Linked DNA regions of Homo sapiens. The protein of the gene in region 1 purifies or fractionates together with the protein of each later gene. This does not show direct contact. Each region holds a gene or a part of one and is shown in the gene's direction. Other genes may lie near its edges.

Region 1 (3,649 bases):
AGAGATGAGGGTCTTGTTTTATTTCCCAGGTTAGTCTCAAACTCCCAGTTTCAAGCGATCCTCCTGCCTTAGCCTCCCAAAATGCTGAGATTATGGGTGTGAGCCACAGTACCCAGCAATAATAATTTTTTAAGTGAAAAAAAAGTAATGGTAAAAATTGGAAGTAAACAAAGTAAAAGGTCCCTTCACAATACCTCTTCACTGCTCTACCTAATGCTACATTTACAGACAAATAGAAGGCTTATAATTAGCCAGGAGCTATTAATATTTGAGTCTAAGGAAATGTTGATTAAGTATATGTTAATTTGATTTAATTACTTCACAGACTGATTTTTTTTTTTTTTTCAGGTTCGATCTGGGGCTAATGTTCTAATTTGTGGTCCAAATGGCTGCGGAAAGAGTTCACTTTTCCGTGTTCTTGGTGAAGTAAGTACAAGTTGGCCTCAAAATTTTGCAGTCTTATTTTGCCATACTGTCTACCACTTTGTAAATTTTACAATTGTTCTTCTCCCTTCTCTCTCTTTAATAGTTATGGCCTCTTTTTGGAGGACGTCTAACTAAACCTGAAAGAGGAAAATTATTTTATGTTCCTCAGGTAAGACCTAGCTTGAGTTATCTTTGATCTAAAGATCTTTTTGTTTATTTATTTTTTCATGTTGCTTCTAATTGACTTTTGCTCTACTACTGTCAGAGACCTTACATGACCCTTGGAACACTTCGAGATCAAGTGATATATCCAGATGGACGAGAAGATCAGAAAAGGAAGGGAATTTCTGACCTAGTAAGGGAATGTTTATATCCTAGATCCACTGAAAATACTCCAGATTATTTATTTTAATCAATTAAGTATTTTAAATGCCAGGTAGTTTATCTTAAGCTGTAAAGCCTTCCAAAGCTGTAAATTGTGATTTTCTAAGCTGAGGTAAGATGTTAATCCCTTGGCTTAAAAAGAGTTTAATCTTAACCTTTACACCATTGTTTGTTTTCTCATTGCCATCATCCTTTTACTGTGTACAATAGTGTTATTCTCTTTAAGCTACTAGACATATTTTGTCAAGTTTGGTGTAGATACTAGGAGCTGAAAGGTTCAGGGCTACCTTGTGCCACATTCTTTTCTGAAATGTATCTTTTAAGTGGTACAGACAATAGAATTATAGTGATTCCAGTTTAAAAAATAAACCACTATTAAGAATGTTGGCTTATATTAAGTTTAATTTCATCTTTAATCATTTTGCTGAAAGGTACTGAAGGAATACTTAGACAATGTCCAGTTGGGTCATATCCTTGAACGTGAAGGAGGCTGGGACAGTGTTCAGGATTGGATGGACGTACTCAGTGGTGGAGAAAAGCAAAGAATGGCGGTAAGTATACTGTGAAGAAGTTGCACAAGAATGCAACTGGTTCCAGCATTTTGATTAATCAGGACACAAAGTTTCATCTTATATTTTTTTATTCAGCAGCTGTTTCAGTATGGATTAGTTTAAATTATCATAAAAGTGCTTGAAAATCTTTAACTTGCATGTAAATTTGGAATTCTGAAAAATTCATAAATACCCTGCCAGTATCTATGAAAGGAAAAGCTGCAGATCCGACTATATACCAATAATCCATTTTTCTAAAAGTTCAGAGAAACTCTGTAGCTCATTATTCCTGGGATATAAGGTAATCCTGGCTGGGTTATGAAATTTCTTCTCATGTCTCTTCCCTATAGACATCTCTTTTGTATCACTCAGGCTATTCTTTCTGAAATAGCTGAAGGTATTAGAAACGATCCATTCAAATTTTATCTTTATTCTGTTCTTGCCCTTTTCCTCCACTATTATATGTATGTTTTTGTTTCAAGGTTCAGTATCTACTACTTAAAGTTACTTAGAATTTTTAAGTTTTCCTAATATAAACAAGCATTTGAAAGAAACTACTTTAATTGTTATGATGACTAAACTTGTCTCAAACCAAAAATATGCGCTAAACACTACGTAGTAAGAATGAGACCAGCCTGGGCAACATAGCAAGACCCTTTCTCTACAAAAAAAAATTTAAAAATTATCTGGGCGTAGTGGCACACACCTATAGTCCTAGCTACTGGGAGGCGGAAAGATTGCTTGAGCCCAGGAGTTTGAGGCTGCATTGGGCTGTGATCACACACCGTGGCACTCCAGGCTGGGCGATAGAAGGAGATCGTCTCTCTAAAAATAAATAAATAAATAAAAATTTAAAAAGAACGGTAGTTTGGGTACCTTGTCAAGAGGGGCAACTTCATAAAGAGTCATTTTTTAACTATATATTTCATAGTTTGAATAGATCCAAGCAAGAGATTCTCCTCTCCCCCTGCAGAGTATGGAGATTAGAGAAAACTGTAGCTAAGGAAAGAAAGCAAAAGAAATTGGCTTATGGCAGAATTTCTGACCCATTATATTCAGGTTATATTCCACCTTTTTGTTACCTCCGAGTCCCTGATTTTGCAAGTTGTTTTTCCCAAAATCATACCCACTCTACATGAGGTTAATATTAACCTAATAGTGTGACTTGCCTGGCTAGTGCTATAACGTGAGATGAATCTAGTGTGAAGAGTAAATCATAAATGAGAGAGATAATAGCTATATTCAAAATGGAAATTAGGCTGAAGGAGTGAAAATTTGAAATGATTAGGCATTTCTAGAGTCAATTTAGAAGATGACTATAGAAATAACTGCAAAAAAGAGCTGCAAAATAACTTTAAATTTCTGTACTATGTCTTCAGAGAAAATGGAAGGATGTGGTTCAGAAATGGACACGACGGAAACTCAGAGAATGAATAATGAATGTACTTAAACCAAGGAACAGTGTGTGTGTGGTATAAAAGTACAGGAGGGATAATTTTGATTTGAAGATTAGGAATTCAAAGGCGTGCCCAGAGCAGTGGGGGGCTGAGGCGGGAGAATCACTTCAACCCGGGAGGCATAGGCTGCAGTGAGCCAAGATCATGCCACTACACTCTAGCCAGGGCAACAGAGCAAGACTCTGTCTCAAAAGAAAAAAAAAAAAAAAAAAACACATGATCCATAATAGAGGCGTTTGGGAAATGGGGAAAGCTCACCTGTGACACCACTGCATATATAACTGGAGCATGGCCAAGCCATTGTCTAGAGAATTGAATGTGATGTGTAAAAGAGAGCCTGTTGTTTTGTTTCAGAGGGTGGAAAGGAGAAGGCTAACGCTACAAATACTAACGTTGGTGAAATTAGGTAAAGATTATATATGTGTATTCATTTTACTGTCCTTTCAGTTTTTTGGTAGGATTGAAAATTACCAAAGTAGAAAGTTGAGGGGAAAGTAGGTATTAGAATTTTTAGGAAGAACAGACCTAAAAGGCCTAGCCACTTAGAACAGTGAGTCAGCCAGGGTTGCTCCAGCTAATGTCACAATTTGGGATATCTTGTGTTTCTGACCAAAAGTTATCTTTTCCACTCCATTTTTCTTGCTCTTCCTATTTAGTAATAACTTTTCTTATTTTGAATTATGAAAAAGTATATATGATGGAAAAGTGGAATATTTATTTAAGTATAAATTGGGCCAAACCCCTTTACCAGAGATACCACTGTTATAAAATTTTTAGTGTTTTTTTAATCCATTTTTGTAAATCTTTTTTTTTTTTACCTTAAATTAGCAA
Region 2 (3,649 bases), on another chromosome or scaffold:
CCTGTGTATTAACTGTCTGTTTGATAGAAAGGAGAAAGAACTTGCATACCTGTGTGGATATAATTGAATAACAAAGCTCTAATAAAAAGCTGACTTTTAAAAAAAAAACTAACTTAGCTTAATTATCTGGAGACGGTGTAAGAGAAAGAAAGCAGTAGTATGTTCTAATACTTCTCCTTAATTCTTCCTTTTAAGGAATAAAAGTAGAGAAATTAAATATTTAATAAGATGTGACGTTAAACTCATCTTTGGAATCCAATTTATGTGGTTTCTTTCATGAACCCTGCTATCCCTTTTCTGTGAAGTGGCAGGTAAGAAATAACCAAAGATCTTTGAGAACAGGCCTAGCATGGAAAAAAAGTATAGCAGACTGCTTACAAGAAGCATTCTAAGGCTGCTTCTTTAGCAGCAGTATAACTAAGGCTGATATTTAGTGAGCCTGTTCCATTACAGCCATACAGTTATAAATTGGTGTCAATCTCTTGGTTTGGTGTTTATACCATGCCAGTTGTTAAACATTTTTTTATAACCCTTGACTGTAACCAAGAGGTATAGGAAGGCAGCTTGGGTTCTGGGAAGGTCATAAGGAAAGAATGTCTTTGGGGGCAGAGGGAATTCAGGAAAAATTGGAAATAATTATTATATATATTGTTTTTTATAAGTGCTATTCATACTGAAATCAGACCAATGTTTTTGAAAATGTGGCAACATAAATGCAGATAATGAAGTGCTTTTCTAATATGAGAAGATTAATAATAAGGGCAAACAAAATGTCCTTGGTTCTCTGTTTTTCTCTAACATGCACAGGAAGAAATGATAGCTTCCTTTGAAGGGGAAGTAGTGTAGTAGAGAAAGTAGTGTTTTCAAACATTTGGAATTTGTGGACCATGTGATGGGTCTTCAGTGCATACCACTGATTTTAGATAAACACAAAAGAATAATTCAAAATGTTTTTATTGTAAGATCAAAGAAGTATTTTTAAATCAGTATCAGGAAAAGCAATGATTGTTCACATTATTGTACCACCACATGAATGGTGAAAGACTCACTAAAGTCCAAGTTAAGGTTTCATATTTAACTGATTTCTTTTCTTGCTCTTAGTTGTACTAAATTAGATAGCCCCACCTTTGAATTATAGAGTTGGGAAGAGCAACAATTAAATATTTCTATTAGATGTTTTAGATATTCAAATGGACACAAAAATTATTACAAGAATTCTCACTGAAAACTACATCAAGTTGACAAGTGTATGGCACTCGAAAGCAAAGTTGAGTATTTTAATTTTGGAGATGGCAATGTGTAGATCTGTCCTTTTGGTTGAATTCAGTTCTAGGAAATATGTTTTCAGGTTTAGTGCAGTAATTGAATATGGTTTTAAGTCTACCTAGTTGTTAGAAAAGAGTAAATCTTGGCTGGGCGTGGCGGCTCACGCCTGTAATCCCAGCACTTTGGGAGGCAGAGGCGGGCAGATCACGAGGTCAGGAGTTCGAGACCAACCCGGCCAATATGGTGAAACTATGTCTTTACTAAAAATACAAAAGTTAGCTGGACATGGTGGCGTGTGCCTGTAGTCCCAGCTACTCAGGAGGCTGAGGCAGAAGAGTTGCTTGAACCCAGGAGGCAAAGGTTGCAGTGAGCCAAGATCGTGCCACTGCACACAAGCCTGGGCGACAGAGCCGAGACTCCATCTCAAAGAAAAAAGAAAAGAGTAAAACTCTTTGGTTAAGCCATTTGTATCATTATTTAGTCTGCATATTTTGTTACTAAGAATTGTGGCCGGGCCGGGCGCGGTGGCTCACACCTGTAATCCCAGCACTTTGGGAGGCCAAGGCTGGCAGATCACGAGGTCAGGAGATCGAGACCATCCTGGCTAACACAGTGAAACCCCATCTCTACTAAAAATACAAAAAAATTAGCCAGCCTTGGTGGCAGGTGCCTCTAGTTCCAGCTACTCGGGAGGCTGAGGCAGGAGAATGGCGTAAACCCGGGAGGCAGAGCTTGCAGTGAGCCAAGATAGCGCCACAGCACTCCAGCCTGGGAGATAGAGCGAGACGCCGTGCTAAAAAAAAAAATTGTGGCGGGTCACAGTGGCTCACACCTGTAATCCCAACACTTTGGGAAGCTGGGGCGAGTAGATTGCTTGAGACCAGCCTGGGCAACAGGGTGAAACTCCATCTCTACCAAAAATAACAAAAAAAAATTAGCTGGGCATGGTGGCACACACCTGTAGTCCCAGCTACTCAGGAGGCTGAGGTGGGAGGATTGCCTTAGCCTGTGAGGTGGAGGCCACAGTGAGCTGTGATTGCGCCACTGTACTCCAGCTTGGGAGACAGAGTGAGACCCTGTCTGAACAACAAAAAAGAATTGTGGCCAGTCATGGTAGCTCACATCTGTAATCCCAGCACTTTTGAGGCTCAGGTGGGTGGATTGCTTGTGGTTACGAGGTCAGGATCAGCCTAGGCAACATAGCAAAACCTTGTCTCTCTACAAAAAAGAAAAAGAAAAAGAAAAAAAATTAGCCAAGTGTGATGGAGCACACCTGTTGTAAGTCCTAGCTACTCGGGAGGCTCAGCTGGGAGGATCACTTGAGCCCAGGAGTTTGGGGCTGCATTGAGCTATGATTGCGCCACTACCCTCTAGCCTGGGTGACAGAGTGAAACCAATCTTAAATAAAAGAGAGAATTATAATTTTACTCTCAAATGATATGTTCAAGCTGGTCACTATACTGTCTGTCATAGAGGTATGGCACTTGAGTTAGCCGCTTAAAATCATAGATATGTTTTAATGACATCAGTGTTATAAAAAAAAATGAATATCCGCTGGGCACGGTGGCTCACGCCTGTAATCCCAACACTGGGAGGCCAAGGCAGGCGGATCACCTGATATCAGGAGTTCAAGACCAGCTTGGCCAACATGGTGAAACCTTGTGTCTACTAAAAATACAAAAATTAGCCAGGCGTGGTGGCAGGCGCCTGTAATCCCAGCTACTTGGGAGGCTGAGGTAGGACAATCACGTGAACCTGGGAGGCAGAGGTTGCTGTGAGCCAAGCTCACACCATTGCACTCCAGCCTGGGCGACAGAGCAAGACTCTGTCTCAAAAAAAGAAAAAAAAAAGTATATCCTTCATTTGAGTAGGTATTGTTAGCATATTTCCTCTTGACAAAACAGAAAAACAGAGTATTTGCTGCTGCTGCTTCCCCCCGCCCCCCCCCGCCAATAGAGGTTGGGTCTTGCTATGTTGTCCAGGCTTGTCTCAAACTCCTGGGCTCAAGCAATCCACCTACCTTGGCCTCCCAAAGTGCTAGGATCACAGGCATGAGCCACTGTGTGCCCAGCCTGCCGCTGCATTCTTAACATGCTGAAGATACCTATTCAAGGGCTGCAATTTTAATTATATTCACAATTTTCCATGCAGTTATTAACAATGACTCAAGCCAGCTGTTGTCTGTAAATGAAGCCATGTGTGAATTGGCTTTCAGGTGGTGGGCTCTTCATTGCTGCACACAAAGCTAGTGCTCTAGCTATGCTGATTCCAGCACAACTTTTCAATTCAAGTTTCAAAAATAATTGTTGGTTAAAAGAAAATATCTTCTTCTAAAACTTTTAAAAAGTTGCTTGTATTTCTTGATTAACATGTTACATTCGTA
Region 3 (4,255 bases), on another chromosome or scaffold:
GCCCTGGGGTTCAGAGTACCAGAGCCTCAGTGGAGGTCAGCAGATGTCCCTCCCTCCTTGGAATGGCAGCCCATCCCAGGAGATGTCCTGACAACACCTGTGTACCCTGCATAGGGTCCCTGATGGGCCTGGGTGACATTATCTCACAGCAGCTGGTGGAGAGGCGGGGTCTGCAGGAACACCAGAGAGGCCGGACTCTGACCATGGTGTCCCTGGGCTGTGGCTTTGTGGTAAGTTCTCCCCTCAACAGGGCTTCAGTGGACTCAACAGTGGTCTTAGTTCTTTGCCATCCTTTGGCTTCCCTTGGACTCTCACACCTAAGCCAACCTGCCGCCCTCTTTTTTCTTAGTGTCCACTTCCCCTATTCTGATACTTGGGGCAGGGAGCTTAGTGAGGTAGAGGCCTAGGGCTCCCTCACTGCAGCCTGCTGCTATCTGGGGTTTACTTCCAGGGCCCTGTGGTAGGAGGCTGGTACAAGGTTTTGGATCGGTTCATCCCTGGCACCACCAAAGTGGATGCACTGAAGAAGATGTTGTTGGATCAGGTGAGCAGGAGAACAGAGTGGGGAGGGTGAGCTGTGTTGGGGGTAGGTGGGGATTTCAGCACTCATAGGACTTTAATTTCTCTTCCCTAGGGGGGCTTTGCCCCGTGTTTTCTAGGCTGCTTTCTCCCACTGGTAGGGGCACTTAATGGACTGTCAGCCCAGGACAACTGGGCCAAACTACAGCGGGTGAGCTGGGCAGGTGTGGAGAATGTCTCTGGCTGGCGGGCTGACAGCCCAGGGGAAGAAGACAGGTTTTACAGGGATAAAAAAGGGGGTAAGTGCAGGTAGGGCCCCAGGCCATGGAGGAGAGGAGCTGAGGGTTATGGTGCAGGAATGTGCTCTTTGAACCCAAGTCTGTGTGTGACATTCATACTGGGAAGTGGGAGCTGCTTGGAGGCGCAAGTGTTAATTTGTTCCTTCTCTGTCTCCCCAGGATTATCCTGATGCCCTTATCACCAACTACTATGTAAGAGCTGACACCTCAACTGCTTGTTCTCCTGCTTCCTTAAGTCTAGAACTGTCCTGGGATTGGGGGGTCCTCCTGACATGGGAAACCCTTCCGTTGGGATTACTCTTTCATTCCCAGGATGGGCACCATAAATAGGGAAGCCATCACCCAACTGTTCACCTTTTTCTTGTGTGCAGAAGTTGGGGTAGGGCCAGGCAAGACAGTGAGTCTGGGGTCAGGTGGTGGGGCAGCCATCCAACCTTTACATTTTCTCTTGCAGCTATGGCCTGCTGTGCAGTTAGCCAACTTCTACCTGGTCCCCCTTCATTACAGGTATGTTGCACCCCTACCCCACCCATCAAGGAAGACCCACGTTACCAACAGTTGGAGACAAAATGATTCTCATTTCAACCTTGAGCTACCTTAGACCCCCAAACGGAACACTGAGCCGTGATCAGAGTTCCTCAGATTCCCAAGCGTGTTATTCAGAATGTCTTGCCATTTCCGGAAACTGTCCCAGAGTGTCTGCCCACTGACCTTCTTCATCTCCCTAGGGAGGATCCTGCTTCTACCACCCTTGTCTCCATCCCACCTGAGCTCCGTCTTTGATGGCATATCTGGAGGGACAGTGGCTGGGGTGCTGCAGCCTAGGTTAGACAGAGAGGTAGACCAGAAGGCCAAGTAGGAGCCTGGTCAGACACTCACAATAAAGACAGTTGCTGAACTGCACCCAAAAAGATAGTGGCACTGAAGATGTGTGGTTCAAATGCTTGAAGGTGAAGGATCGTGGGAACAGGGGAAAATATGGAACGCTTCAGAGGGAACAGGGCCAAAATGTACATGAGTAGCATAGCTAAAACGAATACAGACTGGCTGGGCACGGTGGCTCACACCTGTAATTCTAGCACTTTGGGAGGCTGAGGCAAGAGGTTTGCTTGAGTCCAGGAGTTTCACACCAGCCTGGGCAATATAGTGAGACCTCATCTCTACAGAAAATACAAAAAATTAGCCAGTCACATGGTAACATGTGCCCGTAGTCCCAGCTACTCGGGAGGCTGAGGTGGGAGGATCACTTGAGCCTGTGAGATGGAGGTTGCTGTGAACTGAGATTGTGCCACTGCATTTCAGCCTGGTGACAGAGTGAGACGACCCTGTCTCCAAAAAAAAAAAAAAAAAAAAAAAAAAAAAAGGCTGGACACAGTGGCTCACGCCTGTAATCCCAACACTTTGGGAGGCTGAGGCAGGTGGATCACAAGGTCAGGAATTCGAGACCAGCCTGGCCAATATGTTGAAACCCTGTCTCTACTAAAAATACAAAAATTAGCTGGGTGTGGTGGCAGGTGCCTGTAGTCCCAGCTACTCGGGAGGCTGAGGGAGGAGAATCGCTTGAACCTGGGAGGCGGAGGTTGCAGTGAGCCAAGATCTTGCCACCGCACTCCAGCCTGGGCAACAGAGCGAGACTCCGTCTCAAAAAAAACCCGAAAAAACAAAAAAGGAATACAGACTTATGAACCAAATCCTAAACATTAGGGTCCTTTGCAACACTCTTTGAAACCAGAGCAAGGTTAATTTAAAACAGAAAGATGCTACTTTATATGATAGTCCGTACATTTCGGAAGATGAAATCTCAGCTGGTACAAGACAGATCAATGAACTTAGAAGGGGCCCAGATAGGGGCCCTTTCTGTGATTAACAGAGCTATGCATGGCAAGAGAGCCGCTGAATATTTAGCCTTTGAGGCTCTCAGCCAGGAAACAGAGCTCTGGGATGGCACTAGAATTTGAGCCAGTTGTCCTTTAGTGCAAGCCACACAGGCCCTTCATAGGGTGCTGAAAGGGCTGGGTGTCGTGGCTCACACCTGTAATCCCAGCACTTTGGGAGGCCGAGGTGGGTGGCTCACTTGAGGTCAGGAGTTCGAGACCAGCCTGGCCAACATGGTGAAACCCTGTCTCTCCTAAAAATACAAAAATTAGCCAGGTGTGGTGGAGCACACCTGTAGTCCCAGCTACTTGGGAGGCTGAGGCACGAGAATTGATTGAACCCGGGAGGCAGTGAGCCAAGATTGTGCTACTGCACTCCAGCCTGGGCAACAGAGGAGACTCCATCTCAAAAAAAAGGTGCTGAAGGAAAGAGACCTAAACCTGCCAATCCTTTGTCATGATCCCTCCTTTGCCATTTCATGCTCCCATCTCCAGCCCTTGCTCACTGCTTAGCCTTCCTCCTCTTCATTGTGTTATTCCTGTTCCTTAGGTTGGCCGTTGTCCAATGTGTTGCTGTTATCTGGAACTCCTACCTGTCCTGGAAGGCACATCGGCTCTAAGCCTGCCTCACTCCATCGTTTCCACCTTGCAGTGATGCAGCTTGACCCTGGAACGGTCAGACAACCTCCTCAAAGTGGGCATACCAGTTTCCACGGGGTTGGGTTGCCGGTCAGAGCTTAAGAGGACTAGCACCCTGCAATGCCCCTCTTCACTCTAAAATGTACACTGACTGCTTTAGAGCCCTTGATAATAGTCTTATTCCCACCACATACTAGGCACTCCATAAATATCTGTTGAACCTTCATGACCTTATCAACTTTACACCCATATCCCAGCAAATGCCACTCATCCCCACTCTTCATAGACACATTTGTTACTCTAACCCTGCCTAGGCTTCTTGTAGCTCCAGCTCTTTAGAGACTCCCGGAACCCTTTATATGGTGCCTCAGTAAATATGTTATTAAATATGTAATCCGGAATCTGCAGTGGTAATGAGTAAGTTTTTAAGCAGAAAACTATTGGGGAGTCATTTCTAGAGCTGGAAAGAAGCCAAGAGACCACCAAGCCCAATTTTTTTTTTTTTTTTTTTTTTTTTTTTTGAGACAGGGTCTTGCTCTGTCTCCCAGGCTGGAGTGCAGTGGCGCGATCTTGCCTCACTGCAGCTTCCGCCTCCTGGGTTCAAGCAGTTCTCCTGCCTCAGCCTCCTGAGTAGCTGGGACCACAGGCGCATACCGCCACGCCCGGCTAATTTTTGTATTTTTAGTAGAGATGGGGTTTCGCCATATTGGCCAGGCTGGTTTCAAACTACTGACCTCGTGATCCGCCTGCCTCGGCCTCCCAAAGTGTTGGGATTACAGGCGTGAGCCACCGCGCCTGGCCAAGCCCAGTCTTACAAATGAGGACCCTGAGGTTGGTAGGAGGGAGGTGACCTGTCCACACCAGGAGTTAGCAGAAACTTGAACCCATATTTCTTTGCTGCTCATGGGCAGAGTTACACTGCTG

Evidence for each region.
Region 2: the proteins of ABCD3 (region 1) and MARCHF5 purify together in Homo sapiens (affinity purification with western blotting, with the first as the bait; one study listed by BioGRID). This does not show direct contact.
Region 3: the proteins of ABCD3 (region 1) and MPV17 fractionate together in Homo sapiens (co-fractionation; one large-scale study listed by BioGRID). This does not show direct contact.

The regions. Positions count from the first base shown.
Region 1 is NC_000001.11:94,498,254-94,501,902, forward strand, and holds part of ABCD3 (ATP-binding cassette sub-family D member 3), read left to right. Parts: intron 1-348; coding exon 349-426; intron 427-529; coding exon 530-595; intron 596-691; coding exon 692-781; intron 782-1,241; coding exon 1,242-1,361; intron 1,362-3,649. UniProt on the Homo sapiens protein: Broad substrate specificity ATP-dependent transporter of the ATP-binding cassette (ABC) family that catalyzes the transport of long-chain fatty acids (LCFA)-CoA, dicarboxylic acids-CoA, long-branched-chain fatty acids-CoA and bile acids from the cytosol to the peroxisome lumen for beta-oxydation.
Region 2 is NC_000010.11:92,311,544-92,315,192, forward strand, and holds part of MARCHF5 (E3 ubiquitin-protein ligase MARCHF5), read left to right. Parts: intron 1-3,649. UniProt on the Homo sapiens protein: Mitochondrial E3 ubiquitin-protein ligase that plays a crucial role in the control of mitochondrial morphology by acting as a positive regulator of mitochondrial fission and as an important regulator of immune response.
Region 3 is NC_000002.12:27,308,969-27,313,223, reverse strand, and holds the end of MPV17 (mitochondrial inner membrane protein Mpv17), read left to right. Parts: intron 1-114; coding exon 115-230; intron 231-451; coding exon 452-544; intron 545-634; coding exon 635-730; intron 731-977; coding exon 978-1,010; intron 1,011-1,272; coding exon 1,273-1,325; intron 1,326-3,242; coding exon 3,243-3,312; 3' UTR 3,313-3,732; downstream 3,733-4,255. UniProt on the Homo sapiens protein: Non-selective channel that modulates the membrane potential under normal conditions and oxidative stress, and is involved in mitochondrial homeostasis.